4 linked regions of the Homo sapiens genome follow. The protein of the gene in region 2 purifies or fractionates together with the protein of the main gene of each other region. This does not show direct contact. Each region holds a gene or a part of one and is shown on either strand. Other genes may lie near its edges. The genes, in order: PI4K2A, IRGC, OMA1 and FBXL18.

Evidence for each region.
Region 1: the proteins of IRGC (region 2) and PI4K2A purify together in Homo sapiens (affinity purification with mass spectrometry; 2 studies listed by BioGRID and IntAct, with this or other methods). This does not show direct contact.
Region 3: the proteins of IRGC (region 2) and OMA1 purify together in Homo sapiens (affinity purification with mass spectrometry; 2 studies listed by BioGRID and IntAct, with this or other methods). This does not show direct contact.
Region 4: the proteins of IRGC (region 2) and FBXL18 purify together in Homo sapiens (affinity purification with mass spectrometry; 2 studies listed by BioGRID and IntAct, with this or other methods). This does not show direct contact.

Annotation. Positions count from the first base shown.
Region 1 is NC_000010.11:97,662,525-97,670,064, reverse strand, and holds part of PI4K2A (phosphatidylinositol 4-kinase type 2-alpha), read right to left. Parts: intron 7,159-7,540; coding exon 7,097-7,158; intron 5,181-7,096; coding exon 5,081-5,180; intron 3,628-5,080; coding exon 3,494-3,627; intron 3,005-3,493; coding exon 2,945-3,004; intron 1-2,944. UniProt on the Homo sapiens protein: Membrane-bound phosphatidylinositol-4 kinase (PI4-kinase) that catalyzes the phosphorylation of phosphatidylinositol (PI) to phosphatidylinositol 4-phosphate (PI4P), a lipid that plays important roles in endocytosis, Golgi function, protein sorting and membrane trafficking and is required for prolonged survival of neurons.
Region 2 is NC_000019.10:43,713,146-43,721,349, forward strand, and holds IRGC (interferon-inducible GTPase 5), read left to right. Parts: upstream 1-2,930; 5' UTR 2,931-2,997; intron 2,998-3,731; exon of another isoform or gene 3,732-3,804; intron 3,805-5,234; exon of another isoform or gene 5,235-5,302; coding exon of another isoform or gene 5,303-5,413; coding exon 5,414-6,805; 3' UTR 6,806-6,876; downstream 6,877-8,204. UniProt on the Homo sapiens protein: Required for sperm motility and therefore male fertility, via positive regulation of spermatozoa fibrous sheath formation.
Region 3 is NC_000001.11:58,502,872-58,510,411, reverse strand, and holds part of OMA1 (metalloendopeptidase OMA1, mitochondrial precursor), read left to right. Parts: intron 1-4,202; coding exon 4,203-4,352; intron 4,353-7,540. UniProt on the Homo sapiens protein: Metalloprotease that is part of the quality control system in the inner membrane of mitochondria. Activated in response to various mitochondrial stress, leading to the proteolytic cleavage of target proteins, such as OPA1, UQCC3 and DELE1.
Region 4 is NC_000007.14:5,489,810-5,495,061, forward strand, and holds part of FBXL18 (F-box/LRR-repeat protein 18), read right to left. Parts: intron 1,641-5,252; coding exon 1,422-1,640; intron 653-1,421; coding exon of another isoform or gene 598-652; exon of another isoform or gene 404-597; coding exon of another isoform or gene 1-403. UniProt on the Homo sapiens protein: Substrate-recognition component of the SCF (SKP1-CUL1-F-box protein)-type E3 ubiquitin ligase complex.

The sequences.
Region 1 (7,540 bases), on a different chromosome or scaffold from region 2:
AATGGTGGTGCATGCCTGTGGTCCCAGCTACTCAGGAGGCTGAGGGGGGAGGACTTCTTGAACCTAGGAGTTCAAAGCTGCAGTGGTCTACAATTGGGCCACTGCACTCCAGCCTAGGTGACAGAGCATGACCCTGTCTTTAAAAAAAAGAAAAGAAAAAGAAAATGTTACAGAGGCTTTCTCTCAGACCCTAGATTCTTTAACTCCCGGTGAGAAGCCTTTAAGTTGAGTAACAACTTCTATCACCTGACTGTGTCCCTGTGGGGCCTCTTCACTCTTTCCCTACATCTCAGGGCCCTTGTACTACAGCCCATCCTGCAATAATGGCTCAGCTATGTAGACAGGGTTATGACCTCTTTTCTCTGTGCTTTGTCAGATTTCTGTAGTGCAGAAATTTTGTAGTGCACACATTTTGCTTTGATGTGTGAATGGTAGACAAGTAAGCACATGAGTGATATACTGGCCATGTACATGTTGGAAGGAGCTGGATGGTCACCCTAAGGTAGTAGGCACTTTAGGTTACAAGATACCAAAAGCTCCTCTGAAGACATTAGGAGCACAAGATGGAGATAAATAAAACTGCACTACCCCAACCTCCCTACCATCCTGAATAATGGCACTATCTGAGTAATGGGAGAAGGGTTGGCAAGGGACTGAGCTGGGATGGAATTAGATAAGACATTGCAATACGGACAGAGGCACAGCCTATATCAACTGGAGAAGCCAGTTTACTCCTTTATGCTGAGTTCCATAACATCTGAGTCTATCACATGGCTTTTAATGCTTCCAAAAATTCTGCCAGCCTAATTGGGCCCTTACATTACTTGGGAAATGTAGGAATACCATGTTACTGGTATTCAGACAGCTACAATAATTGTAGTTCTTAAAACCTCTGTCCAGGCCGGGCTCAGTGGCTCACTCCTGTAATCCCAGCACTTTGGGAGGCCGAGGCAGGCAGATCACCTGAGATCAGGAGTTTGAGACCACCCTGGCCAACATGGTGAAACCCCATCTCTACTAAAAATACAAAAATTAGCCAGGTGTGGTGCCATGCACCTGTAATCCCAGCTACTTGGGAGGCTGAGGCAGGAGAATCACTTGAACCTGGGAGGTGAAGGTTGCAGTGAGCCAAGATCGCACCACTGCACTCCAGCCTGGGTGACAGAGTGAGACTCTGTCTCAAAAGAAAAAAAAAACCTCTGTCCAACCCCCTTCCAGGGAAAAATGGGCTCAGCAAACCCAGGAGGTGCTGTCATCAGAGGTCTTTAGATAAATGGCAGGAAGAAGTAAATGCAGAATTAAGGCTGAGAAGATCCTCTTGCCCTTTAAAGATGGGAGAAGCTGAATTTTCTGTATACAAAAATCATAATCCTAACAGCTATTAATACTACAAATTGAGTATTTTAGTATACCAGGTACTACTCTAACTGTTTCAAATCATTTATCTCATAATAATTCTGTAAGGTGGGTACCATTATTATTATCTTGAGACAGGTTCTCACTCTGTCCCCTAGACTGGAGTGCAGTGGTGCCATCTCAGCTCACTGCATCCTAGACCTCCCAGGCCCAAGCAATCCTTCCACCTCAGCCTCCTGAGTAGCTGGGATTACAGGCGTGCGCCACCACACATGGCTAATTTTTGTGTTTTTTGTAGAGATGGGGTTTCACCATGTTGCCCAGGCTGGTCTCCAACTCCTTAGCTCAAGTGATCTGCCCACCTAAGCCTCTCAAAGTGCTGGGATTACAAGTGTGAGCCACCATGCCTGGTCTCAGCTACTATTATTGATCCCACATTAAACATGAGGAAACTAAGGGAAGGAGAGATTAAGTAACTTGCCCAAAATCTCACAGGTAGTAAATGGCAGAGCCAGGCTTCAAAAACCCAGGCACTGTGACCACAGTTTGCACCCTTAACCACTAGGTCATCCCAACTCTCTTTAAGAAGACTTCAAAGTGATAGGCATAATACCAGTACCCTACAGAGTTTTCAAACCATTTTTCAAGCATTTCTTTACTATGCTTTGGAAGATCAACAATCCCCTTGGTTTCCTTAGCTCCCTTTGAAGGTGAAGTGGAAGGAGAAGGAATAATGTAAGTTGCACCTATAACAACAAAATTATAACCATAATCAATATGTGAGTGCTTCATGTGCCCAGTACTCTTTTTACTAAACGCTTGATAAGCATTATCTCATGAAATTCTCCAGCCAACTGTGCAACGTATTATTACTATCCTGTTTTATGAACAAGAAAACAGAGGCTTTTGCCCCAGGCCACAGAGCTTCCAAGTAGTGAAGCAGTCTGGCTCCAGGGCCCAGATCTTAACCACCAAAACATACAGCCTGCCTTGAGCAACTCTAGGACAGAGAGCATTAGTTTAATTACCAATGAATTACCTAGCAACTAGCATAGAGATGAGTGCACATTAAGTGCTTCAACAAGCACTGGATACCAGGGAAGAGGTGGGAGAATTGGGAGGGCCACTTTTCCTCTCCTAGGTGTTAAGGTACAGCCAAAAATAATGTACACAACGGACTTAAAAAAGCTGTAAAACACGGCCGGGCGCAGGGCCTCACGCCTGTAATCCCAGCACTCTGGGAGGCAGAGGCAGGTGCATCACTTGAGGTCAGGAGTTCGAGACCAGCCTGGTCAACATGGTAAAACCCTGTCTCTACTAAAAATGCAAAAATTAGCCGGGCGTTGTGACATGCGCCTGTAATCCTAGCTACTTGGGAGGCTGAGGCACAAGAATTGCTTGAACCTGGGAGGTGGAGGTTGCAGTGAGCAGAGATCATGCCACTGCACTTTAGCCTGGGTGACAGAGTGAGACTCGGTCTCAAAAAAAAAGGGGGGGGTATAAAACACAAACTTCAAACATTTGCTCAACCTGAGCACACAACACTCCCAGAGACGCCAAAGATACTGGGAGGATGTCCCAGGCTTACCTGGCCCCGCATGACAGCAATCTGCTTATGGAACTGGCCCCTGTCGAAACCAGGATCTTTCTGCAAAAGAAGACCAGAAGGAGATGGAACCTGTGTGAATGCCTCACAGGAACCCATTTTCTCCCCCAGTTAGAAACTTTCTAAGAAGGAAAACCTGCATAAGGCTTCTGCAGCTTTGTGAAGTCAACTACTCCCACAAGAACTCCCTGCTTTACAGATGAGGAAACAGAAAACAAGTCAATATCTTCCTCTGCATCTCAAACTCTAGGCTCCAGTGCTCCATATTAAAATGAAAGCCCTGCAGATACATTGCAGCCACATGATGGACAGGAGAGACACATCAGTGTGATTTCTCACCCCTGCCCATTTCTCTCAAACCCATCCAAACCAGGTCCTGCTGTCCACATGTGGAAATCTTGCTATTCGTTGGCTAACTCAAGTCAGAAAGGTGTTAGCCATTTCCTCTTGGCTTTTGTCAGGACCAATTAAAAAAACCATTAAAAATTCCTTCTCCCATATGATAATAGGGCTGAGGTTCCCAGGGCTAACCTTGAAGAGTTCATATAGGTCCTCTTCCAAGTCCTTGACGAAGTTAGGGTCCGATATCTTTGGAAGGATCAGATCTTTGATCTCCTGAGAAAATGGGACTTTCGCCTGGGGCAACCAGGCCCAGTAAAAAGGATCTGAAAAGAGGAAAAGTCAAAGGCAAAGCTGGTGTTGGAAAAGTCCCTGCTCATCTGTGTCCTCCACCAGTCAAGGCACTTTCTAAAGGAGAACCCCTCTTCCCTGACATACAACAGAAACAAAAACTTACAAGTGCTCTTAACTGTAAAGGTTACACAGCTAGTCAGTAGAGGAACCAGGGTTCAAACCCAGGGCTGCCTAATGTCAGAGCTCATTCTCAGACATTACATGACCTTCCAAGATGCAAGGTCTAGAAGCAACTACTTGCCACTGAGACGCTGAGATGGTCCTTCTGAAAAGGAAGACTAATGCTGCAAAAGGGGCTACTGACTCCCTACATTTATTTCTCCTCCTTTCCAGAAGCTTCTCAGTTACAACAGGGTAGGAGATGGAACAAGGAAGACAGAACACTGATAGGAAGCTTATATTTAGAGGCACAATTAGAATAAATTATGGAAAGACAGTCCTCAGATAACAGGAAAAAAAAAGATATTTCAGGAAATATACACTAAAACAATAAAATAACAAATTAAAAAATTAAAAAAGGGCCGGGCGCAGTGGCTCATGCCTGTAATCCCAGCACTTTGGGAGGCCAAGGCGGGTGGATCACAAGGTCAGGAGATTGAGATCATCTTGGCTAACACACTGAAACCCTGTCTCTACTAAAAATACAAAAATTAGCTGGGCATGGTGGCGGGTGCCTGTAGTCCCAGCTACTCGGGAGGCTGAGGCAGGAGAATGGTGTGAACCCAGGAGGAGGAGGTTGCAGTGAGCCGAGATCGCGCCACTGCACTCCAGCCTGGGCGACAGGGCAAGACTCCGTCTCAAAAAAAAAATAAATAAATAAAAAATAAATAGCCCTCAGCCAGGCGCAGTGGCTCACACCTGTAATCCCAGCATTTTGGGAGGCTGAGGCAGGCAGATCACCTGAAGTCAGGAGTTCAAGAACAGCCTGGCCAACATGGTGAAACCCCGTCTCTACTAAAAATACAAAATTAGCCGGGCGTGGTGGCGCATGCCTGTAATCCCAGCTACTTGGGAGGTTGAGGCAGGAGAATCGCTTGAACCCAGGAGGTGGAGGTTGCAGTGGGCCCAGATCGCACCATTGCACTCTAGCCTGGGCAACAAGAGCGAAACTCCATTTCCAAAAAAAAAAAGTCCTCAGAAAGAACGAGAAGAATGCAAAGAGACAATGAGAAAACTCATCTTTATGCTTCTAATTTCTAATCACCTTTATGCTTGTAATGGGAATCATAGAAGACAAAAATTAGAAAAACAGCTTACATTATGAAATAGTTGCCATATGCCAGCCATTGTGTTAAAGTGCCTGAACTCCATTATTTCATTAATTTTTAGAATAATCCTATGATAGAGACATTATCATCTCCACTGCACAGTGAGAAAATATACTGAGCAAGGGAAGAGCCAGACCACCATTGTCTGGAGACTTACATGCCCTCCAGGAGTCAGGATGCTTCAGTGGGAAGGCCAGCCCATTGTCTATGGCAGCCACCTTGATAACAGGCTCCTTCACCACCACCCAGTCTGTGTCCTGAAGAGCAAGGAAAGACTAATGACTGAGGAAACCCATCTCCCTCAGGCCCTTCCAATTAGTAGCAAAGCAACTCATCCCAACTCCCTCAAGAGAAGAATTCTTATTGAACTTATCTTGAGCTACTCTCTGAACTGGCTTCCATGTTGTTATCTGAACTTAGCACATTTTGGTGCCTCTGACCTGGCTCTTGTTCAAAGTTCAAGAGTCCTGTTCTTATCTTAGAAAAGGTACACTTCCCCAAGAGTTGCTACAGTCCTTGGTAAGAAGGAAATGACAATAATAAAGATAACTATAAGCCATTCCTCCTAGGGAAAGAAAATGAGAATCCTGAAAGCAGAACAGAAGAAATAAAATCCATATCAGTTGGCCAAGGTCCTTTTGTGTGGACCTTGACTCAGATGTTACTTCACTGGTGACAACTACATTTTCCAGTGAGAAAACAGAGCCTCGGAAGATAACAGCTGGCTGCTCTTGCACAAGGGAGTCTGTTCTCCTGCTTCAGTGGTGCATGAAAAGGAAAAGGACAAGAGATGAATGTAAAAAGAGTGGGCATGTCACCTGTGACAGCCCATGTCAGAGACAATCACTGACTATGTGGCTCCATGCTTCAGGTTCATGGGTGCCATCACAGGAACAAGAACTGTGGTTCCAGGATGCCTGAATCTGAATCCCCTGAGATACCTTATTAAATGTGCAGAATCCTGAGTTTTACTCCAGACCTGATGAATCAGTTTCTAAGGGAAAGGCCTGAAGAATCTGTGTACTATTTTAAATAACTCTTCAGAAGATTCAGGCACAAAATTTGAGAGCCACTATTAGAGAAAGTAAAAAAGTTATAAGGAATGAAAACCCCACCCTGGGCAACATAGCAAGACCTCATCTCTACAAAACATTAAACAACTTTTGCGCCTGTAGTCCCAGCTACTCAGGAGGCTGAGGTGAGAGGACTGCTTTGAGCCCAGGAGTCCAAGGCTGCTGTGAGCTAGGATAGCACCACTGTACTCCAGCCTGCGCAACAGAGCAAGACCCTGTCTCTTTTTTTTTTTTTTTTTTTTAATTTTTGAGACAGAGTCTTGCTCTGTCGTCTGGGCTGGAATGCAATGGTGTGATCTTGGCTCACTGCAACCTCAGCCTCCCAGGTTCAAGCCATTCTCGAGTCTCAGCCTCCCGAGTAGCTAGGAATACAAGCTCCCGCCATCATGCCCGGCTAATTTTTGCATTTTAATAGAGACGGGGTTTCACCATGTCGGCCAGGCTGGAACTCCTGACCTCAGGTGATCCTCCCACCTCGGCCTCCCAAAGTGCTGGGATTACAGGCGTGAGTCACCATGCCCGGCCAACCCTGTTTCTTAAAAAAAAAAAAAAGAAAGAAAAGAAAAAAGAAATAAAACCAATCTCACTCTCCCCTAGGCAGCCTTCTGCTAATTTTGTAAAACATGTAGACTGAACAGTGATAGAGAAGTATGGTGGAGGATGAAAGGAATGAGAAAGGAAAGAAAGTTGCAGGAGCAGCTTTTTCTAAACTTATGTTCTGTGGACTTGCGGTCTGTTGTGAGAAAAGTGGTTCATGGTTTAAAAGGGGTAGAAATCAAATTTAAATAGGTTTGTTTAACGTAGTACTTCTCAGACCTTTACTATGCTACTGTGCAATAAGAAGCTCAAAGAACAGAGTACATAATATGTTCCAAATTTACTTGACCCTTTCTTCATGCTATTCCTATTAACATGTGTCAGTAGGATGTCCTTGAAACACATATTGAGAAAAACTTTACCAAATATTAACCTATTAATTTTAAACATATGCGCCCCCCGATTCTTCTGAACTTGTATGAACTACATCTCTGACCATTTTATGTGTTTCTATATTATGCAAATACTCTTCATTCTCTTTAAGATTTATCTCAGTCTCTTACCCGAGAGCTAGAACTATCCATTGGACAGTCATATTTAATCAGCCAGTTGTCATTGCCTCGATCTGTGAACAGAAATATAAAGTTAGCAGAAAAAGGGGGGATGATTTTCCATTTTTGTAATGGTGGACTAGGTATTCTGGACACTCGGACTAACGCTTCTACTGAGAATGACTACAAATGCTGGATAAAATATTTTTAGATCTTTTTTAAGGTACTGGAGATTTTAATAAGACCACAAAGGATTTAAGAGTGAAGATATGGGAGAGAAAGGAAATCCATGGGAGGACGTGGAGCCCAGCACTGTGGCTTCTTTTCCCCTAGAGCACCTGCCAATTTGGAAAGAGCTGGCTAAGAGCTTGAGAGGTAGAACAATTATAAGAGCCTTGTGGAGCTAGAGAGACAAAAACTATAATCCAGTGACTGATCAGGGGTAAGGGACCCTCG
Region 2 (8,204 bases):
GCAGAACAAGACCCTCTTCTCCACCACATCCCCGCCCCCCCGCAAAAAATACCACATAGTATCTGTGAAGGACAATAAAGCTGCATGCAATAAAATGAGGTGTGCCTGAAATTGAGTTTATTATTGAACGAATGAAAGTTCTCTCTCAACTCAGGTTCTTTGCAGAGGCTGGTCCCTTAGCCTGGGATGCAACTCCCTAATGTGCCATCTGGCTCACTCCTACTCATCCTTTGGATCTCAGGTCAGGTGCCCCCTCCTCCAGGAAGCCCTCCCTGACTCCCAGGCTGAGTCGGGCTTCCTCCTTTGTGCTCCCACAGCCCTCTGGGGTCCCCCATCCCAGTGCTGCCCCCTCTGTCATCATTATCTTGGGATGGATCTGACTCCACCACTGGACTCTGAGTCCTGTGGGGGCAGAGCCTGGCTGTCTTGTCCATTGCTGCGTTTCCAGCATGCAGATAGGCAGGGTGCAACCCCTCTCTCTCTGGCTGGTGCTCTCAGGAGCTGCTAGGGGCATCCCTGGGAACATGCCAGTCTGCATCGGTGCATGTGTGCAGGTGGCAGTGGCTCTCTTTCTTGGTCCACAATCATCCTGGGCTGCAATAATCTCCATTTTCTCGGGCCTGGAGCCCCTGAAGCAGTGCCTGGGTTTGATGCATCTCTGGAGCCCTAGCTGCTGCAGCAGAATGAATGAGGTTCCTGAATGGAGTCAGTGGGTTTCGGGGTTTCTGTATATGTTGTCAGTGTGTAACTGTGTCTCTTAAAGTCTGCACATCTGTGTCCCGGAATGTGTGTGTTTGCGAGGCTTTGGTAAGTGTGTGTTTGTCTGAGTCTTGCTTTCCTTCAGTGACTCTGTTGTTTTGTTTCGTTTAGAGACAGAATCTTGCTCAGTCACCCAGGCTGGAGTGCAGTAGCATGATCACGGCTCACTGCAGCCTTGAACTCCTGGGCTCAAGCAATCCTCCCACCTCAGCCTCCTGAGTAGCTGGGACTACAGATGTGCACCATCATACCTGGCTCATTTTTTTTTTTTTTTTAAGAGATAGGGTCTTGGCCAGGCACGGTGGCTCACGCCTGTAATCCCAGCACTTTGGGAGTCCGAGGTGGGCGGATCACGAGGTCAGGAGATCGAGACCATCCTGGCTAACACGGTGAAACCCCGTCTCTACTAAAAAATACAAAAAAATTTAGCCAGGCGCGGTGGCAGGCGCCTGTAGTCCCAGCTACTCGGGAGGCTGAGGCAGGAGAATGGCAGGAACCCGGGAGGCGGAGCTTGCAGTGAGCCGAGATTGCACCACTGCACTCCAGCGTGGGAGACAGAGCGAGACTCCGTCTCAAAAAAAAAAAAAAAAAAAAGAGATAGGGTCTTGCTATGTTGCCCAGGCTGGTCTCAACCTCCTGGGCTCAAGCAAACCTCCTACCTCGGCCTCCCAAATTGCTGAGATTACAGGCGTGAGTGAGCCGCCATGCCCAGCCACGAAGTAACTCTGTATTTGAGGCTCTTTCTGTGTCTTTCCCTTCTCTCTTGGGCCAGGGGTGCGTGTCCATGCATTTTGGGAAGGAGTCCTTGCTGTCTGCTGGTCTGTGTGCTCGGTGTCCGGGGAAGTCTGAGAACCATGTTGTTCACTCTCTTCAGCTCTGTGTGTTTGTGTCAGTCAGTGAGAGCATGAGTGAGTCGTGTGTCTTTTGCCCTGCACCTCCCTTTCACCTGTGGCTTAAGAACTCTGTACTATGCGGCCAACAGCCCACTCTTCCCCAGCTCTCAGGGTGGCTCTGAGCTAGTCTATTCCCCTTCTGGGCCTCTCTCTCCTTAGTTGTTCTCAGAGGCTCCTTTCCAGAACTGGCCTGCAGATGGTCAGGAAAATCCTCTGAGTAGCGTTATTGTAAATTCCCTACAAGAGGAGAATGGAGAAGGCCCTGTGGAGCCTGGCCTGGGCAGAGAGGAAGCCCGGAGGGGAGACAGGACAGAGACACTTATAAAGGACAAGAAGGGGCCGGGTGTAGTGGCTACACCTGTAATCTTAGCGCTTTGGGAGGCGGCATAACCTGAGGTCAGGAGGTTTGGGAGGCGAGGCAGGCGGATAACCTGAGGTCAGGAGTTCAAGACCAGCCTAGGCAACATGGTGAAACCCCACCTCTACTAAAAAAAAAAAAAAAAAAAAAAAATTAGCCAAGCCTGGTGGTGCATGCTAGTAGTCCCAGCTACTCAGGAGGCTGAAGCAGGAGAATCACTTGAACCCAGGAGGCGGAGGTTGCAGTGAGCCAAGATTGTGTCACTGCACTCCAGCCTGGGTGACAGAGCAAGACACTGTTTCAAAAAAAGAAAAAAAAGAAATCAATGACTAAATTATTGGGCTTACAAGATAGCAGATCAGCCTCCCGAGTAGCTGGGACTACATGCATGCACCACATCTGGCTAATTTTTGTATTTTTAGTAGAGATGGAGTTTCACCACATTGCCCAGGCTGATCTCAAACTCCTGGCCTCAAGTGATGCACTCGCCTCGGCCTCCCAAAGTGCTGGCATTACAGGCGTGAGCCACTGTGCCCACCAGCAATGACCGAATTTGTATCATCAACTTTCACACTTCTCTGGGGAACTGACAGTCCCCTGGGTGGAGGGTGGAGTGGTAGCAGGGCCAAGCCCTTGGAAACCAATCTGTGAATCTGAGACTTTGTCCTTGGGGGGTGATGGAGACCATGGAGGATTTTGAACAGGTCTTGGTGTTAGAAAGATCTCTCTGGAGTCTTCAGGGGAACTGGAGGGCCCAGTGTGAGTGGGTGGTGACCCCATGAGCAGCTGGGGCTTGGGGTCCCTGCTCCACCTCCGGGCCCCACCCCCTGACATCACTGTCGCATTATTGCACCAGGTCTGGCTGACCAATAAGCTGCTGCTTGCTATGATAATGGGTCCTAGCAACGGTGTCTGACCTTGGCTAAGAGGGAAGGAGATCCTATCAGTGGGGAGAGTGTGAGGGGAGAGGGAGAGCCTGCAGGGCAGGTGAGTCCCCCAGGGCTCTCTCGCTGGGCCCCTGTGCGTGGGCGGAGCAGGAGCTTATGGTCTAATCCGGACCCCCTCAGCCCAAATTCCAACCACTGACTTGTCTGCCCCTTGCTGCCAGGACCTGTTCCAGGTTCCTACTCTTCCCACCGCAGACCATACTAGGGAGAGGGCACACCCAGGATAGGAGGCTCAGATCTGGAGGCAACAATGTCTTTTTTTTTTCCTTTTTTTTTTTCTGAGACGGAGTCTCGCTCTGTCGCCCAGGCTGGAGTGCAGTGGTGCAATCTTGGCTCACTGCAACCTCCGCCTCCTGGGTTCAAGAGCTGGGACTACAGGCATGCGCCACAACACCTGGCTAATTTTTGTATTTTTAGTGGAGATGGAGTTTCACCATGTTGGCCAGGCTGGTCTCGAACTCCTGACCTCAAGTGATCCACCCACCTCGGCCTCCCAAAGTGCTAGGATTACAGGCGTGAGCCACCATGCCCAGCCGGGAACAATGTCTTAAGGACATATTTCTGTGGGGGGTGGAGTGGGGTAGCAGAGGATGGGGTGAGTGGTAGGAGGTGAAGAGACGGGGTGCAGGGGGCAAGGAGACAATGCAGGAGGCAGGGACATGCAGCTGAAGGGAGAGTAGCTCTCTAGGTGGGTGAAGGAGCCTGGGGACCTGGGTTGGGGTCCTGGCTATGCCTCTGGATGAGGAGACCTCATTTGTCTTGTCTGAGCCTCAGTCCTTCTCCCTGTCAAATGGGGACAGTGATCCCAGACATGAGCAGCTCTCCCAGGGCACCCTGAAGACCCTTAGTGAGTAAATGTATTTTAGAGATGATGGGCCAGAGGAGGGTGAGTGGGAAGAGGGAGGACCAGGGAAGCTCCTGGTGAGGAGGAGGGATCTGAGGGGGGACCATCACGACAGGAGCTCTGGGCGGTGGGAGGGGAACTGAACCCCGGGAGGCAAGGGCTGCCATGGCAGGGGTGGGGTTTCATGGAAATGACTCCTGGTGTCCAGGTGGTCCCCATGTCTGGCTTCCCGAACCCAAGGGCGTCTGAACCCAAAGTCAGCCTAGGGCTAGCTGAACGGGGTTTGTGGGCATCACAGCAGCCCTGCGAGGTGGGGAGGAGTATCCCCCACGGGGCAGCTGAGGCTCAGACAGGGCGAGGACTTGCTCAAAGTCACACAGCTAAGAATATTACTAATGATAAGAATAATGACGATGATGGTGATGCCAATGACACGAGGCACCTGCCCTGAGCCAGGCGCCGTTTTATGGGCTGCTTTATGTCATAACTCATTCAAGTCACAGAGATCCTAGGAGGTGGTTTGCCAGGATTGTAGGTATCATTCTCAGTGTTCAGATGAGGAGAGTGAGGAGAGAGTTAAGTAACTTGCCTCACATCACTCAGTAAGTATGTGGTGGAGCCAGGATTTGATCCCAGGCAGTCTGGCTCCGGGTCTGGGTCCCCTCCACCCTACCCTCCAATCCCAGCCACCGCAGGAGTGCAGCTGTTTCCTCTGAATGGGCCTGTACCACCCTTTCCTATGCAGCCCTGGCTATGTAATTTGCCCTGGCTATATAATTTGCAAGGCCCAGTACGAAATGAAAATATGGGGCCCCTGGTTCAAATATTATAAAGAATTTCAGGCCAGGCATAGTGGCTCATGCCCTTAATCCCAGCGCTCTGGGAAGCTGAGGCAGGAGGACCTTGATCTCGGAAGTTCAAGACCAGCTGGGACAACATAGTGAGACTCCCATCTCTACAAAAAATTTAAAAAGTAGCTGGGCATGGTGGCATGCGCCTGTGGTCCCAGCTGTTCAGGAGGCTGAGGTGGGAGGATTGCTAGAGCCAAGGAGATCAAGGCTGCAATGAGCCATGATCGTAGCACTGTGCTCCAGCCTCGATGACAGAGAGACCCTGTCTCAAACAAACAAACAAACAAACAAACAATTTCAGCTAGTGTCAGCAGAGCATTAAACCAAGCACTGGGCCATTCTAAGCACAGAACCCTCCAGGGCACACATACACCCAGAAAACTGACCTGTGCCTAGGTTACCCTGGAGACTCCAATAGTGCTCCAAGAGGCTGCTTGGTGGTCATGCCCATTACCCAGAGAGGTGCTTCATTTTGCCCCTGGTCACACAGCAAGTTAGTGGCAGAAAAGGGATGTGAACCTGGGCCTGCCAGACCCCAAAGCCCTCTAACTTGTGCCAAAAATGTGTCCCCAATTCTTGAAGGAAAAAGAGAGCTGTGGGCTTCCAGGGCGACTCCCTTCACATCCGTGGTATCTGTCTCTCCCTGCCCCATGCCAAGGCCCAGGAGGTGTGAATGGCTCCCTTCTCCTCTGCAGGCGCTGAGGATCACGCATCCTGTGACTCTCCCCTGTCCCCCGCCACCCTCTGAACCACTGGCCACCATGGCTACTTCAAAGTTGCCCGTGGTGCCTGGGGAGGAGGAAAACACCATCCTTATGGCCAAGGAAAGGCTGGAGGCCCTGCGCACAGCCTTTGAGTCGGGTGACCTCCCCCAGGCCGCCTCTCACCTCCAGGAGCTGCTGGCCTCCACGGAAAGCATCCGCCTGGAGGTGGGCGTCACGGGCGAGTCGGGCGCGGGCAAGTCCTCCCTCATCAATGCCCTGCGTGGCCTGGAGGCCGAGGACCCTGGCGCGGCTCTCACGGGCGTCATGGAGACCACGATGCAACCGTCGCCCTATCCACACCCACAGTTCCCTGACGTGACCCTCTGGGACCTGCCAGGAGCCGGCTCTCCAGGCTGCCCGGCTGACAAGTACCTAAAGCAGGTAGACTTCAGCCGCTATGACTTCTTCCTGCTGGTCTCCCCCCGCCGCTGCGGGGCCGTCGAGACCCGCCTGGCCGCTGAGATCCTGTGCCAGGGCAAGAAGTTCTACTTTGTGCGCACCAAGGTGGACGAGGACCTGGCGGCCACGCGCACCCAGCGGCCGTCGGGCTTCAGAGAGGCCGCTGTCCTGCAGGAGATCCGAGACCACTGTGCCGAGCGGCTGCGGGAGGCCGGCGTGGCTGACCCTCGCATCTTCCTGGTGTCCAACCTCTCGCCGGCCCGCTACGACTTTCCCACGCTGGTGTCCACCTGGGAGCACGACCTGCCCTCCCACCGGCGCCACGCTGGCCTGCTGTCGCTCCCCGACATCTCGCTGGAGGCCTTGCAGAAGAAGAAGGCCATGCTTCAAGAGCAAGTCCTCAAGACCGCCCTGGTGTTGGGCGTCATCCAGGCCCTGCCGGTCCCAGGGCTGGCGGCCGCCTACGATGATGCGTTGCTCATCCACTCACTGCGTGGCTACCACCGCAGCTTTGGTCTGGACGACGACTCGCTGGCCAAGCTGGCCGAGCAGGTGGGCAAACAGGCAGGTGACCTGCGCTCGGTCATCCGCTCCCCACTGGCCAACGAGGTCTCGCCTGAGACTGTCCTGCGGCTCTATTCCCAGTCGTCCGACGGCGCCATGCGGGTGGCCCGCGCCTTTGAGAGGGGCATCCCTGTGTTTGGGACGCTGGTGGCTGGCGGCATCAGCTTTGGCGCTGTCTACACCATGCTCCAGGGCTGCCTCAACGAGATGGCTGAGGACGCCCAGCGTGTCCGCATCAAGGCCCTGGAGGATGACGAGCCGCAGCCGGAGGTCAGCTTGGAAGTGGCCAGTGACAATGGCGTGGAAAAGGGGGGCTCCGGGGAGGGAGGTGGGGAGGAAGCCCCACTCTCAACCTGCAGGAAGCTCGGCCTCCTTCTTAAGTACATTCTGGACAGCTGGAAGAAACACGACTCAGAAGAGAAATAAAGAGTGCAGCCCCGCCCCCCTGCCTCACCCACAAACTAAGTCTTAACAAAATCCAAATTACCAACAAAAAAGGCCGATGTGGTGAATGTGAGGGCTGCAGTTGCCTGGGGGGTGGGTGTGGAGGGAGCCTGTGTCCCTGGCAGGCAGGGGAGCCGGCGTCCTGGGCAGGGCAAAGGAGGGGGCACTGGGGAGGGGAGGAGGGAGGCAGGTGGGCCCAGGGCCAACAGGGGTGTAGTGAAAGGGGACAGGAGTGCCCTGGAGAGGGAGGTTGGAGACATGGATGGTGGGCCCAGGGTTCCCTGGTGGTGTCTTTCTCCCTGGTCCCCAAGTGGCCAGGAGGAATTTGTGGGGCACAGGACAGCAGGGCCAAGACAGGAGATTGCATCCTGCTAAGGTGCTTTCTATTTTATTTTATTTTATTATTATTATTTTTTGAGATGGAATCTTGCTCTGTCACCCAGGCTGGAGTGCAGTGGCCCGATCTCGGCTCATTGCAGCTTCTGCCTCCCAGGTTCAAGCAATTCTCCTGCCTCAGCCTCCTAAGTAGCTGGGATTATAGGTGAGCACCACCAAGCCCAGCTAATTTTTTTTTTTTTTTCGAGACTCAGAGCCCAGGCTAGAGTGCTGTGGCACAATCTTGGCTCATTGCAACCTCCACCTCCCGAGTTCAAGCAATTCTCCTGCCTCAGCCTCCCAAGTAGCTGGGATTACAGGCACACGCCAACACGTCCAGCTAATTTTTGTATTTTTGGTAGAGAGGGGGTTTCACCATGTTGGCCAGGCTGGTCTTGAACTCCTGACCTTGGCCTCTCAAAGTGCTGGGATTACAGGCGTGAGCCACTGCACCTGGCCCCTGCTAAGGTACTTTAGTTTCAATCTCATGTCCGTGTCTGAGAACCCAGTGTACCAAAGACAGCCCCAGGGGCCTGGGATGAGCACAGTGGTGTCCAGCAATGGCTAAACAGGTTGGGGAGAGTGGGCATCCGTGCCTGCCTGCTGCCTGGGAGCCATGGAGGGGTAGGGGGTGGCAGGGAGAGGGAGGCCAGGCGGCCACAGGGCTCACCTCCGTGTGGTGCTTGAGAAGACAGAGAATGGCATGGTGAGAGAGTGACTGGATGTTTCCATGAACATCGGAGGAGAGAGGAGGCCGACGATGCAACTCCGTGGCCTAGCATGAGTCTTACTCCAGAAGGAGGGCGGGTGTGTCTCAGAGCAGGAAGGCACATGGTGTTGAGACATCTGGCGTGTCTGTGATTGGGAAGAATCCTGGTCTCTCCATGATTAAAAAAAATTTTTTTTAGAGACAGGGTCTTGCCCTGTCGCCCAGGCTGGAGTGCAGTGGCGTGATCACAGCTCTCTTCAGCCTTGACTTCTTGATTTTGATGCTGTGAGTCTAAGA
Region 3 (7,540 bases), on a different chromosome or scaffold from region 2:
TCAAGTGCTTTTTCTGCATCTATTGAGATGATCATGTGTTTTTTTATTCTGTTAATGTGGTATATCACATTAATTGATTTTTGTGTGTTGAACCATTCTTGATTACCAGGAAGAAATCCTCCTTGGTCATGAGGTGTGATCCTTTTAATATGATCTTGAATTTGGCTTGCTAGTATTTTGTTAAGAATTTTTGTATTTATGTTCATCAGGGATATTGGCCCGTAATTTTTTTTTGTAGTGTCTTTGGCATAGGTATCAGGGTAATGGCTGGCCTCATAAAATGAGTTTGGAAGTGTTTTCTCCTCCTCAATTTTTTGGAAGACTTTGAGAGTCATTGACATTAATTCTTTAAATGTTTTTGGTGGCATTCACCAGTGAGGTCATCTGGTTCTGGGCTTTTCTTTGTTGGGAGGTTTTTTATAATTGACTCAATCTCATTAGTTATAGATTTGTTCATATTTCCTATTTCTTTTTCAGTCTTAGTGGGTTGTATATTTCTTGGAGTTTATCCATTTCTTCTAGGTTATCCAGTTTGTGGGCATATAATTGTTCAGAGTAGTCTCTTATGATCCTTTGTATGGTATCAGTTACAATGGTATGCTGTAATGTGTCCTCTTTTGTTTCTGATTTTGTTCACTTAAGTCTTTTTTTTTCTTACTCTAACGACTTGTCAGTTTTGTAAATCTTTCCCCAAAAAGCTCTTAGTTTTAATTTTTTTCTATTTTTTTATTCTCTGTTTTCTTTATTTATGCTCTAATCTTTATTATTTCCCTCCTTCTGTAAACTTTGGGCTTAGTCCTTTTTTTTTTTTCTTTTTTGGTAGATCTTACAGGTATAAAGTTAGTTTATTTGCTTGCTTTCTTCTTTTTTTTTTTAATGTAGGTGTTTATCATTATAAACCATCCTCTTAGAACTGCCTTTGCTGTATCCCATCAGTTTTGTTATATTGTGTTTTCATTTTCATTTGTCTCAAAATCATTTTCTTTTTGGTTTTTTTTTCCTTGACCCATAGGCTGTTCAGGAGTATGTTGTTTAGGAGTGTGCTTCAGAATTTCTGTTTAGTACTTTTTTACATTTTCTGTGTCTTTGTTGAAATTCTCACTTTGTTCGTACATTGTTCTGACCTCTTTGAGTGTCTTTATGATGGTTATTTTGAATTCTCTTGTTAGATAAGTAATATATTTCTCTTTCATTAGGGTCAGTTTCTGAAGATTTATCTTCATCCTTTGGTACATATTTCTCTGTTTATTTTTTTCACTCTTATTGTTGATATCTACACATTAGGAAAAAACAGCAACCTCTTAGCCTTTACAGACTGTCTTTGTACAGGAGAAGATCTTCACCAGTCAGCACAGCAGAGATTCCCAGAACCTCTCAAACCTTCATGCTAGTCCAAAGTGCTGTCTTTGTTCTTAGTGGTGCCTAGGTGTCTAGGGTCCTGTCTGGTCCATCTGGTCCATATGCTGGGTCCTATCAGTGCTACAAGACAGATGAGACAGAAGCCAGTCCCTTGGACAGCCCTCAGAAATGTTAGAATGTTGGACACGTGATCTACCTCTTTCCCGAGCCCTGCCCCAGGAGAAGCTGGGCTCTGGAGTTTCTCTCCAACTCATTTCATGCTGAGCTTCAGGGAGTGGTCATGGCAACTGCTTGTGTGCTTGTTCAAACTTCTGTCACATTATCACTGGCCCCTAGATATCTAGGGCGTTTTAGATTCCATCAGTGCTACAAGGCTGGCAAGACAGAAGCCAGTTCCTAGGGCAGCTCTTAGAAAAGTTGGAATGTTAGATACACAAGCCAAGTTTTTCCTTCCCCAAGGAGTGGTGGGGAGCTGCAGGTGTTCTTATGATCATATGGTGCTGTATTGGGGGTACATAATTGCTCTCGCAGATTATGGCAAGAGGGTGTCTCCAGTCTTCTACCAGGTTTGATGTTGTTCATTTCGTACTTGTGCAGGTGCAGAAGCATTGCACCTAGTTTCAGGATTTCTCACAAAGGGAATTCGTATATTATCGTTGAATCAGTGTGTTCATGTGGGGAAGGAGGGTTTAGGGCGTCCTATTCTTCCATCTTGCTGATGTCAACCTGTTACTTATTTTTCCTAAATTGGAAAAATGTAAATAAAATACTCATTTTGGAAACAAAATTATCTGACTTTAGTGGCTCTTTGAACTGGGTTTGAGAAGTACAGACAAACTCAACACTCTTATCTTAACATTAAAGTAGATATCTCAAGTCCCCTTTTAATACTTTTAGCTTGGAATACTTTCTAGTCTGTAGGGATAATTAATTTCTTTTTCTATTTCTGCATATCAAATATTGCTTTAAAGATTCCCTTCAGCTGTGTTACTTAGAGATTGAATAGGGAAATATTTTGTCTTTTGATTAACAGTTTTAGGCTAAAAAAATTAGATAAGTATGCCTTTGGTTTGTGTAGCAGACAAACTTCATGTTAGATAATTCGTGAATTTGTAGTCCATTCAAATGTTTATCTTCCAGTTTTCAGAGGGGTTTTTTGTTTGTGTTAGAATTCTTTCAAGTCATTTTATATTTTTATGAATTATTTGAGAAGAATACTTGTTAATCTCAGCCTGTATTTTTATTGTGAATGTGATTACCTATTATTGAGGGGCATAGTCCTCTGGGTGTTTCTAATTCAGCATCAAATAATTATTTCTTTATAGATACATATGTTACATACATATTTTACACATAAGCACACACACATCTTGCATATATAGATATGTATTTATATGTGTATAAACATGAATAATATTTATGTTTGTTATATACATTTATCTTGTATATTCCTGTTTATATACATATAAACATGTATATCCATATCTGTGCAGTAGTGTATAAAGTACCTTGAATTCTTTTCAACTTAGAATACTCAGAGGTCTTAAGGAATTATATTTCTTTAAATATTGAATAAGATTTACTTGAATTTAAAATTTTTTATTTTGCTAACATTTGGAAATGCTTTAATGGTATTTGTTAAGAAATGATGTAGCATGGTTGTTGACTAGCATGCAGTGTTCTATTAATATATTTGCCTTTTGGGGTTTCACAATTACACTATTATAAATCTTTTTGAGAGTACATTTTAGTCAGTATAGTATATATATTTTTTCTTAGTTTTAATCAAAAATAAAATCATTGGGAAATATAACCACTTGTTTTCCAGTTACTTATTATAGAAAGAATAAGTTAAGAAATGTGAATAAATTGAACAAATTAATAAAATATTTGTTAATAATCCACCTTATGGAGGATTTAAAAATAATTTTAATTATAAAATAATGTATTTTAATATAGTTCAGAAATAAAAGTGTTGCTCCCTCTCCACTATCAGATACCTCAGGTACATTCTTAGGGTAGTTAACAGCTTCTTAAATAGCTTCTCAGATATGTTCTGTGCATATACAAGTATATACGTATGAGTATGTATATGAGTGTATGATGGAATTGTACATACACAAGATCTACATATATTCTTTTAAAAAGTACTAATGTACTTTTATATTGTACTTTTATAAGGTATTGTGTTTTATAAGGTATATGAATTAAATATATTGTCCATATACATTGAGAAAATTGGGTAAATTGATGTGCATAATAAACATGTCATCTCTTTATGTTTATTTGAAGTTTTTTTCTGATTGTTCTAGTGGCATAGAAGTAAAGTTTCTTTAATACAGTTTAATAACATTATATTTTAAAACTTTATGAAAACAGAATTTTTAATTTGTGTAAAAGATTTTACCCTTAATACATGTTCTTAATATCCATCATACTGAAAATAGTGGGCTATCTTTGGTTAGCAGGGTTATTGTGAATGTTGTATATGGGAAGGGCAGGCATTCTGTTATTTCAGTACTGTGATACCATGTTGTTTGAGGTGGGTCTTTTTCTAAGCAATGGGCATGTTCTACTTTTATTAAAGTGATGATAGAAAATGACTTTAAAGCATGTAGTGACATAAAGTTGTTAGGAGATATAACTAATGCTAAATGACGAGTTAATGGGTACAGCACACCAACATGGCACATGTATACGTATGTAACAAACCTGCACGTTGTGCACATGTACCCTAAAACTTAAAGTATAATTATAATAGAATTAAAAAAAAATAAAGTAGTAGTTTTTAAAAAATCCTCAAAACTGAGCTCATTGTGTGGTTTTACTAATTTTGGTTTTAGGCTTGTGCAGACATAAGAGCCAGTTCAGTGTTTTGGCAGCAAATGGAGTTCGTTGATAGCCTGCATGGCCAACCCAAGATGCCAGAATGGTTATCTACACACCCTTCTCATGGCAATCGAGTTGAGTACTTGGATAGACTTATACCTCAGGTGAGCTGACACCGTAGAAGGCGGGACATTATTTTTACTGTATCATTTATTTTTAATGCTGTCACTTCTTTTGCTTAGTAAAAGAGAGTTCTAGCCTATTAACTATTTTGATTACTATAATTATGGATTATCAGTTGTCACAGAATTTGACTGAAAAGCAAAATTCTGCTTGTCCACAAGTCTTGGAGAATAAATTACTATGTACAGTTGACTTTTCTTAATAGTGAAGGTTTAACTCCTTTAGTATGAGACTTTAATTTTAACTGACTTGATGAAAGTTTAAAACTCAAGGCATATTAAGTTTTTTAAACATGTTGATGATAATTTAATCTTTCCTTGGTGATTTAAGCTTTTTGTTAAAAATACCAGTTAATGAGTTGTACAGAAGTTTTGGGTCAAGTGGATATTAATTGTAGTAGTGGTACTGGAATTTGTTTTTTTAGGAAAAAAAATCTTCATGTTTGTTTCTGGTTATTTATTTCTTTATGAAGATAAGAGTGAAGCATTTGCTCTCTGGCTTTTCTTTCTGTAGAATTCATAAGTGGGTCAAGCTGAGGCGGCTTTCTGCCAAGTAGTTTTCAGTATCCTCTGAAAATCTTTTGATTTGTTGACATCATTCAGAATGTTTTTATGGTTTCCATATCAGGACAAAATGGATGTTAGGCATCTCTGAGCCACGTTACACGCTCTCTTCTATCTCACTTGTATTAAATTTGGTGGCTTGTTATGAAAGCGGAACATTTTTTAGCAATTTAAGAATTGGTACTGGGCCATGTGCTAAGGCATAGCACAACAGATCCAGGTGTATTATAGAAGTATCTTTCTCATGCCTGTTATCCCAGCATTTTGGGAGGCTGAGGTGGGTGGATCACCTGAGGTCAGGAGTTCGAGACCAGCCTGGCCAACGGGGTGAAACCCTGTCTCTACTGAAAATACAAAATTAGGCGGGCGTGGTGGCATGCGCCTGTAATCCCAGCTACTCGGGAGATTGAGGCAGGGGAATCGCTTGAACCCTGGAGGCAGAAGTTGTAGTGAGCCGAGATCGTGCCACTGCACTCTAGTCAGCGACAGGGTGAGACTCTGTCTCAAAAAAAAAAAAGAAGTATCTTTCAGTATGACTTCAAATTCAGCCCAACAAATACGGAGTACCTCTTAAAAGAAAGAAATGATGCTAGATGTGGGGGATACAAAGAGGAATAAGATATGGTTCTTGATATTTACAGGATGCTAAGATAAATAAAAAATGATTATTAGTACAAGGATATGATTTATCATAAGAAAAATAAAAACGGTATGCAGTTTGAAGGAAGATGAATCTGCTTCTAGTTTGGGATAAGAAACTCTAGTGCAAGATTTATTCATTCATTAGGTAGATCGATATTTATTGATACTTATTGATTAATCTACTATTCTGTGTTCTATTGCTGGGGAATGAGCAAGGAACAAAACAGTCTGTTTTCTTGGAGTTAACATTCTAGTTAGGTAATGCAAATAAGAAACAAACATATAGTATGCCAAGCAATAATAAGTACCTTGGGAAAAAATAAAGCAGATTAAAGGTATTAGAGAGGGGTGGGCAGCAGAGAAGGGGTACTAGTCTATGTTCGGTTGTCAAGGAAGGCCTCACTAATCAGAATCCGGAAGGAAGCACGGGAGCAAGTCCTTTAGCTGTGTGGAGGGAGAGAGAGCCTTTTAGGCTGAGGAAGCAGCTGATGCAGAGAACCTAAAGTCAGCGTATGTTTGATGTGTTCAAGGAATAGCAAGGAAGACATTGGGGCTGAATGGAGTAAGGGAAGGGAAGAACAGTTCAAGATGAGGTGAAAGGGGACCAGACCACGCAGGATCTTCTAAGCCATTGTAAGGACTTGACTTTCACTTCAAGTGATAGGAGAAGCTAGTTGAGGATATTGAGCAGAGGAGTGACTTGATTTGACTCATGTTTTATTGTGATCACTGGCATTATTGTGTGGAGTAGACTAGTGGGGCAACGGTGGAGTCAGGGAGACTTTTTAGGAGACTCTCATAATCCTGGTAGGAGATGATGGTGGCTTGGACCAAGATATCTGGTAGCAGAAAATGGGGAAAGAATCAGTCAGATTCTGGATATATTTTGAAAGGAGTGATGACAGGATTTGTTGGTAATTTAGGCATACTTCGTGCCTTTTGTGAGCATTGAGGACAGCCAAGCATGGCTTCTTAACACCTATTTTAGTTTGTTCAGGTTGCAATAATAAAAATACCATAGACTGGGTGGCTTATAAACAACAGAAACTTACTTCTCACAGTTTGGAAGGCTGTGAAATCTTAGATCCAATTTCCAACAGATTTGGTGTCTGGTGAGGGCCCACTTCCCAGCTCATAAACAGCCATCTTCTCCTTGTAACCTCACATGGTAGAAGGGGCAAGGGAGCTCTCAAAAGCCTCTTTTATAAAAGGGTGCTAACCCATTCATGAGGGCTCCACCCTTATGACAATCGCCTCCCAAAGGCGCTTACCTCCTGATACCATCACATTGGGAGTTGGAATTTCAACATATAAATTTTGACAGGACACAGACATTCACTCTATATCAGCAGCTATCTTAACTAGATTTCATTTGTATTCTTAATTTGAAAAAAAAATTTGAGAAAGAAATAGCAGTGAAATTTACCTGATATAATATGTAGTAATTATTCCTCTTAAAAGGGTAGTATAGGCATGGGACATTATGTATTTCTTCAGTAACTGACTTGTACTGAGGATCACTGACTATAAGAGGGTCCTTTGTGCTATCCAAGGCCCCTGGGACTTTATCGCACCCTGGGAGGCCTGGGCCTGTCTCTAAAGCAATGATAACAATATGATTTTCTCTTGAATTTTTTTTCTTTTTATTTTCGCTCAATGAAATTCTAAAAATATGTGGTTTGTTTAATTGGATAATAAATTCTGTTAGCCAACTTTTCATGTGAAGACTCCTAAATTCTGAGTTGTCATTTCATCATCAAATTACTGAGCATCTTCGGAGAGGTAAAAACTGTGCTTTAGAGATGTCTTTAAAATAATAATGAATTGATTAGTGAGTAGGAAGAAAAATGGCTAGAGAAACAAATTTTATTTGGGAGCAAATGATGAAGACAAAGACGTGAGACATTTTTCTTCTAAAAATAAACTATCCTAGTTCAGAAACTTAATTTGAAAACCTCATATAA
Region 4 (5,252 bases), on a different chromosome or scaffold from region 2:
GCCAGGTATAGTGGTGCACACTTGTAATCCCAGCTGCTCAGGAGGCTGAGGTTGCAACCCAGAAAGCAGAGGTTGCAGTGAGCTGAGATCCCGCCACTGCACTCCAGCCTGGACGACAGAGTGAGACTCTGTCTCAAACAAACAAACAAGAAAAAAGATTGATGCATAGTCTAAATTTTTAAAAAGTACTCTATAAACACAAGTTGTTTTTACAACCAGAGAGGGGGAAACCCCAACCAGGATTATTCCTGAGACAGCCAGCGGCCGACCGCAAGGACAACAGACTACCCCAGAGTCTGGCAAGCAGGGTTGTCGGCGCCCAGTGGCTCGAGACGTCCTGGCTGATGGCTCTTCTCGCAACTCTGTGAACAGCTGGGGCCTCCTTCCTGTCACCTCTCCCCACCTGCAGGGACACGAACACTCAGGGCGTTCATGTCCTGCTGCCCCCTTGGCCGGGCGCACGCCTCTCTCAGGAGCCCTGATCACTCCAGCAGTCAGCCCGTCCTCCTGAGAGGTCTTGAAATGCGTCACTCCCCACATCGCCTACCAAGCTCCAGCTCTCTCCAGGAATCGCCTCCTCCTAATTTGTGTTCAATTCTAGGTGCTCACCTGACTTCCTGCGCAGCAGCAGAGCATCAAACTCCAGGATGCCCTGTCACGAGGGGAAGCGGAGATGCTAGCTAGCTAAGGGAAGAGGGGCCAGACTATGTGGGCCTTCCAGAAAGGGCCTGACAGCAGGTGGCGAGGGAGAGGGAGAAGGAAAGGTTCTCTGTTCAATCTACCGCCTTTACCCACAACTGCCCAAGTAAGCACTGCTTCTAGATCCAAACAACGGGCAGAGATGTGAAAAATCCAGAGTTAAAGATGGTTGCAGGCTGGGTGCGGTGGCTCATGCCTGTAATCCCAGCACTTTGGGAGGCCGAGGCAGGCGGATCACCTGAGGTCGGGAGTTCGAGACCAGCCTGACCAACATGGTGAAACCCTATCTTTACTAAAATACAAAATACATGCTGGTGGCGCAGGCCTGTAATCCCAGCTACTCAGGAAGCCAAGGCAGGAGAATCGCTTGAACCCGGAAGGCGAAGGTCGCAGTGAGCCGAGATTTCGCCACTACACTCCAGCCTGGGCAACACAGTGAGACTCCGTCTCAAAAGTAATAATAATAATAAGAAGAAGACTTTTGTACTTGTGGGAGAGGAGAGCTTGAACTATCTAGAAAATTTACCATGTGGCTAGGGAATGCTCAAGGAGCAGAGGCTGGGCCGTGGGAGACCAAACCCCTTGCTTTCACCCTGTCACTGCCTGGTGCTCGTCAATTCCAAGAAACCACTGGTAGGCACTCGGTGAAGGCTGGGGACCAGGTCACGGGATGCTGGTGATTTCTGCGGCCCCTGAAGCTGTACGCAACCCACATCACTCACCTGCGGAGAAGCGACTGCTGCAGGCTCTTGCAGGTGGCGAGGGACTCCCCGGTGAACAGGTGGCACATGACAACCTGCAGGCAGCGAGCCATGAAGGCCAGCACGGCATCGGGCTGGAGGGTGCCGCTGCGAGAGACCAGGCACAGGCGCTGCAGCGAGGGGCACTGGCTCAGCGCCTGGAAGAACTGGGCGTTGGCGCTGAAGTAGGGCTGCTCCAGCCTGCGGGGAGAGAGGGCAGCTGTGAGGTCCGAGGGAGGGGCTCGCAGGCCAGGCCAGCTGGGCGTCTGGAGGTGCTGCCAGTGGAAGCTTCCTGGCCTGGGGCCCAGCCCAGCTGTTCCCGCCACCTCCCACCAATACCACTATCCCTTGGAGTACTGGGTGCCGACTCAGGCCCCCAGGGTCCCCCTTGGAGATCTGATTTGGAGGCGACCCGGTGGGCCTGATGCAAGCAGCCAGCCAGTGTCTACAGAGCCCGGCTTCAAGTCACCAGCCGAGGCCATCAGCATCTGTGTCCGCAGCCTGCCTGGTGCACCCCAATGACCCCCAGGCACCCTATCTTCCTCAAACGCTGGTGTGCTGGGCAGCGGATGCAAAGAGGACCCCACACATGGCCCCTGCCCTTGGGAAGCTCAGCTGGACAGGGAGGCAGATAAGGACTGAACACCATGAGAGAGGGCGGTAATCCGGGAGGCTGGTGTGGGGGAGGGAGAGGGCGAGAATCTGGGAGGCAGGGGGTAAGGTGGGCAGGAACTTCAGCCAGATGGGGGCCACTTCAGCCACGACAGATGGGAGGACAGCGCTGGATGGCTGCAGGGCCAAAGGAGGAGGCCGAGGGGAGTGGGGCCAAGCTAAGAGGTTGGCAGCCAGGGCAGGGGGGAGGCCCAAGTCCGCACCAAGGCTACAGTGACAGAGACCAAGACGGGAGAACCCAGGGGAAAGGGGAGGACTTGGGAAAGGGAAGTAGGGGACGACATTCTAGATCCTTCCTGGGGAGTCTGTCCATGCAGACAGAAAGCAGAAGGACAGGCCATGTCTCGAAGTACAGTGGCAGATGTGGGGATGTGGCGCTGCTGAGGACAGGCCCGGGGGGCCCTTGGAGAACCAGGCTGTGGGACTGGGCAAGACCTGGACTGTGGCAGGTTGTGGGGTGCAGCGAGCCCCTGAGATAAGAATCAAGAGGGAGCAGAGAGGCTGGAGGGGAACTCACGTGACTTCAGGGGCTGCCAGGAACTCCCGGGGTGGGGGGAGGAGCCGCTGGAGGGACGGGCTGAGGCGAATGGGGAGGGGCTAGTGTGGACTGAGCTGCGACGCCCCCCCACACACACACTATGCAGGAGTCCTCACCTTGGGACCTGAGGGTGTGGCCTTATTTGGAGGCAGGTTTGTTGCGGATGCAAGGGAGTTAAGAGGAGGATGCATCCTGCATGATGGGGACTCTAAATCTAATGACTGGTTCCTTATAAGGCCAGGTGAAGGCACAGAGATACCCAGACACAGACAGAAGGCGGCCAGGTCACAACAGAGGCAGAGACTGGGGCCACGTGTCCACCAGCCAAGCAGTGCCAGGCGTGGCTGGCAGGCGCCCGAGTTCCTCCTCACCATCCTCAGAAGGAATGAACCATCCCTGCCCATAGCCTGATTTGGGGCCTCTGGGCTCCAGAATCGTGAGACAATAAATGCCTGTTGCATGAAGCCACTCAGTTTGTGATCAATTGTCCTGGCAGCCCCAGGATCCTAGCACAGATGCTGAGGGCAGCCACAGCAGAAGGCGCCACAGGCATGGAGATTCTTCCCTGGTAGGTGACACAAAAAGACCAAGTCACGGCGGGCATGGTGGCTCACACTTATAATCCCAGCCCTTCAGGAGGCCAAGGCAGGAGGATCACTTGAGCCCAGGAGTTTGAGAAGAGCCTGGGCGACATAGTGAGAGCCCAGCTCTACAAAAAGTACAAAAATTATCCAGCCATGGTGGCACGCACCTGTACTCCCAGCTACTCGGGAAGCTGAGGTGGGAGGATCGCTTGAGCCCAGGACTTCGAGGCTGCAGTGAGCTAGGATCGTGCCACTGCACTCCAAGCTGGATGACAGAGCAAGACAGTCTCGATCTGTTGCCCAGGCTGGAGTGCAGTGGCGTGATCTCAGCTCATTGCAAGCTCCCGGGTTCACGCCATTCTCCTGCCTCAGCCTCCCGAGTAGCTGGGACTACAGGCGCCTGCCACCGCACCCAGCTAATTTTTTGTATTTTTAGTAGAGATGGGGTTTCACCGTGTTAGCCAGGATGGTCTCAATCTCCTGACCACTTGCTCCACCCGCCTCAGCCTCCCAAAGTGCTGGGATTACAGGCGTGGGCCACTGCACCTGGCCAAAATTTTTTTTTTAAAAGAATAAAGGAAGTGTGGCTCATGAGAGACTGGTTATTTACTTTTGTGTGTGTGTGCGTGCGTGCGTGCGTGCGTGTGTGTGTGTGGAGACAGGGGTCTCACTATGTTGCCCAGGCTGGTCTCCAACTCCTGAGCTCAAGCAATCCTCCTGCCTCAGCCTCCCAAAGTGCTAGGATTATAGGCGTGAGCCACCATGCCTGGTAGTTAATTTTCTTTTAATTGATTTAAGCAGAAATTCTCAGCCAGGTGCGGTGGCTCACGTCTATAATCCCAGCACCTTGGGAGGCTGAGGCAGGCGGATCACCTGAGGTCAGGAGTTCGACACTGGCCAACATGGCAAAACCCTGTCACTACTAAAAATACAAAAATTAGCCAGGCAGGCCGGGCACGGTGGCTCATGCCTGTAATCCCAGCACTTTGGGAGGCCGAAGAGGGCAGATCACCTGAAATCGGGAGTTTGAGACCAGCCTGACCAACATGGAAAAACCCCATCTCTACTAAAAATACAAAATTAGCTGGTCGTGGTGGCACACACCTGTAATCCCAGCTACTCGGGAGGCTGAGGCAGGAAAATCGTTTCTACCTGGGAGGCAGAGGTTGCGGTGAGCCAAGATGGCACCATTGCACTCCAGCCTGGGCAACAAGAGTGAAACTCCATCTCAAAAAAAAAAAAAAAAATTAGCTGGGCGTGGCGGGGCATGCCCATTATCCCAGCTACTGGGGAGGCGAAGGCAGGAGAATTGCTTGGAGGCAGAGGATGCAGTGAGCTGAGATCACACCACTGCACTCCAGCCTAGGTGACAGAGCGAGACTCTGTCTCACACAAAAAAATAAATAAATAAAATTAAATAAATAATAAAATAAAACATCCAAATTGTCTTTATTTTTCTATATTTGTTTTGTTAAGCTATTCAGATTGTTTTTATTTAAAGATAGTAATAAAATGTTTTCATTACGTATATTTTAAATACCACCTCTCCCTAAAAAAATCCTAAAGTAAACAACCCTTTGCAGACCGGAAGGTGGGAAACGGGAAGGGGTAAAAAAGACGGTGCAGGCGCCGCACCTGCTGAGCTGCAAAGTCACCTCTGGATTTCTCTCCAAAGCAAAAGCAGGAGGCTCCAGACAGCAGGAGATGGAAACGGGGCGTTGGGCAAGGACGGTGCCGTCGTGTGGTCACTAGGTGGCGATGCGGCTCCGTGCTACCCGCCCCAGATCGCCCCGAGCCTCTGGGGTTAAAAACCAAGTCTGCAGAGCGTGGAAAAAAAACCTTTTTTCCACGAGATAACCACATCCACATTCTTCCGCCCCGGAGGAAGTCACCTGTCACAGGTGTTCAGGATGTGGCAGGCCCACGGGAGTGACTGGTCAGGCAGCGGGCCTGGCACGTCTAAAGCTTCCTAGGCTCCCACAGCACGCCGCCTGGGGCACGGCACCCAGGACGGTGGCA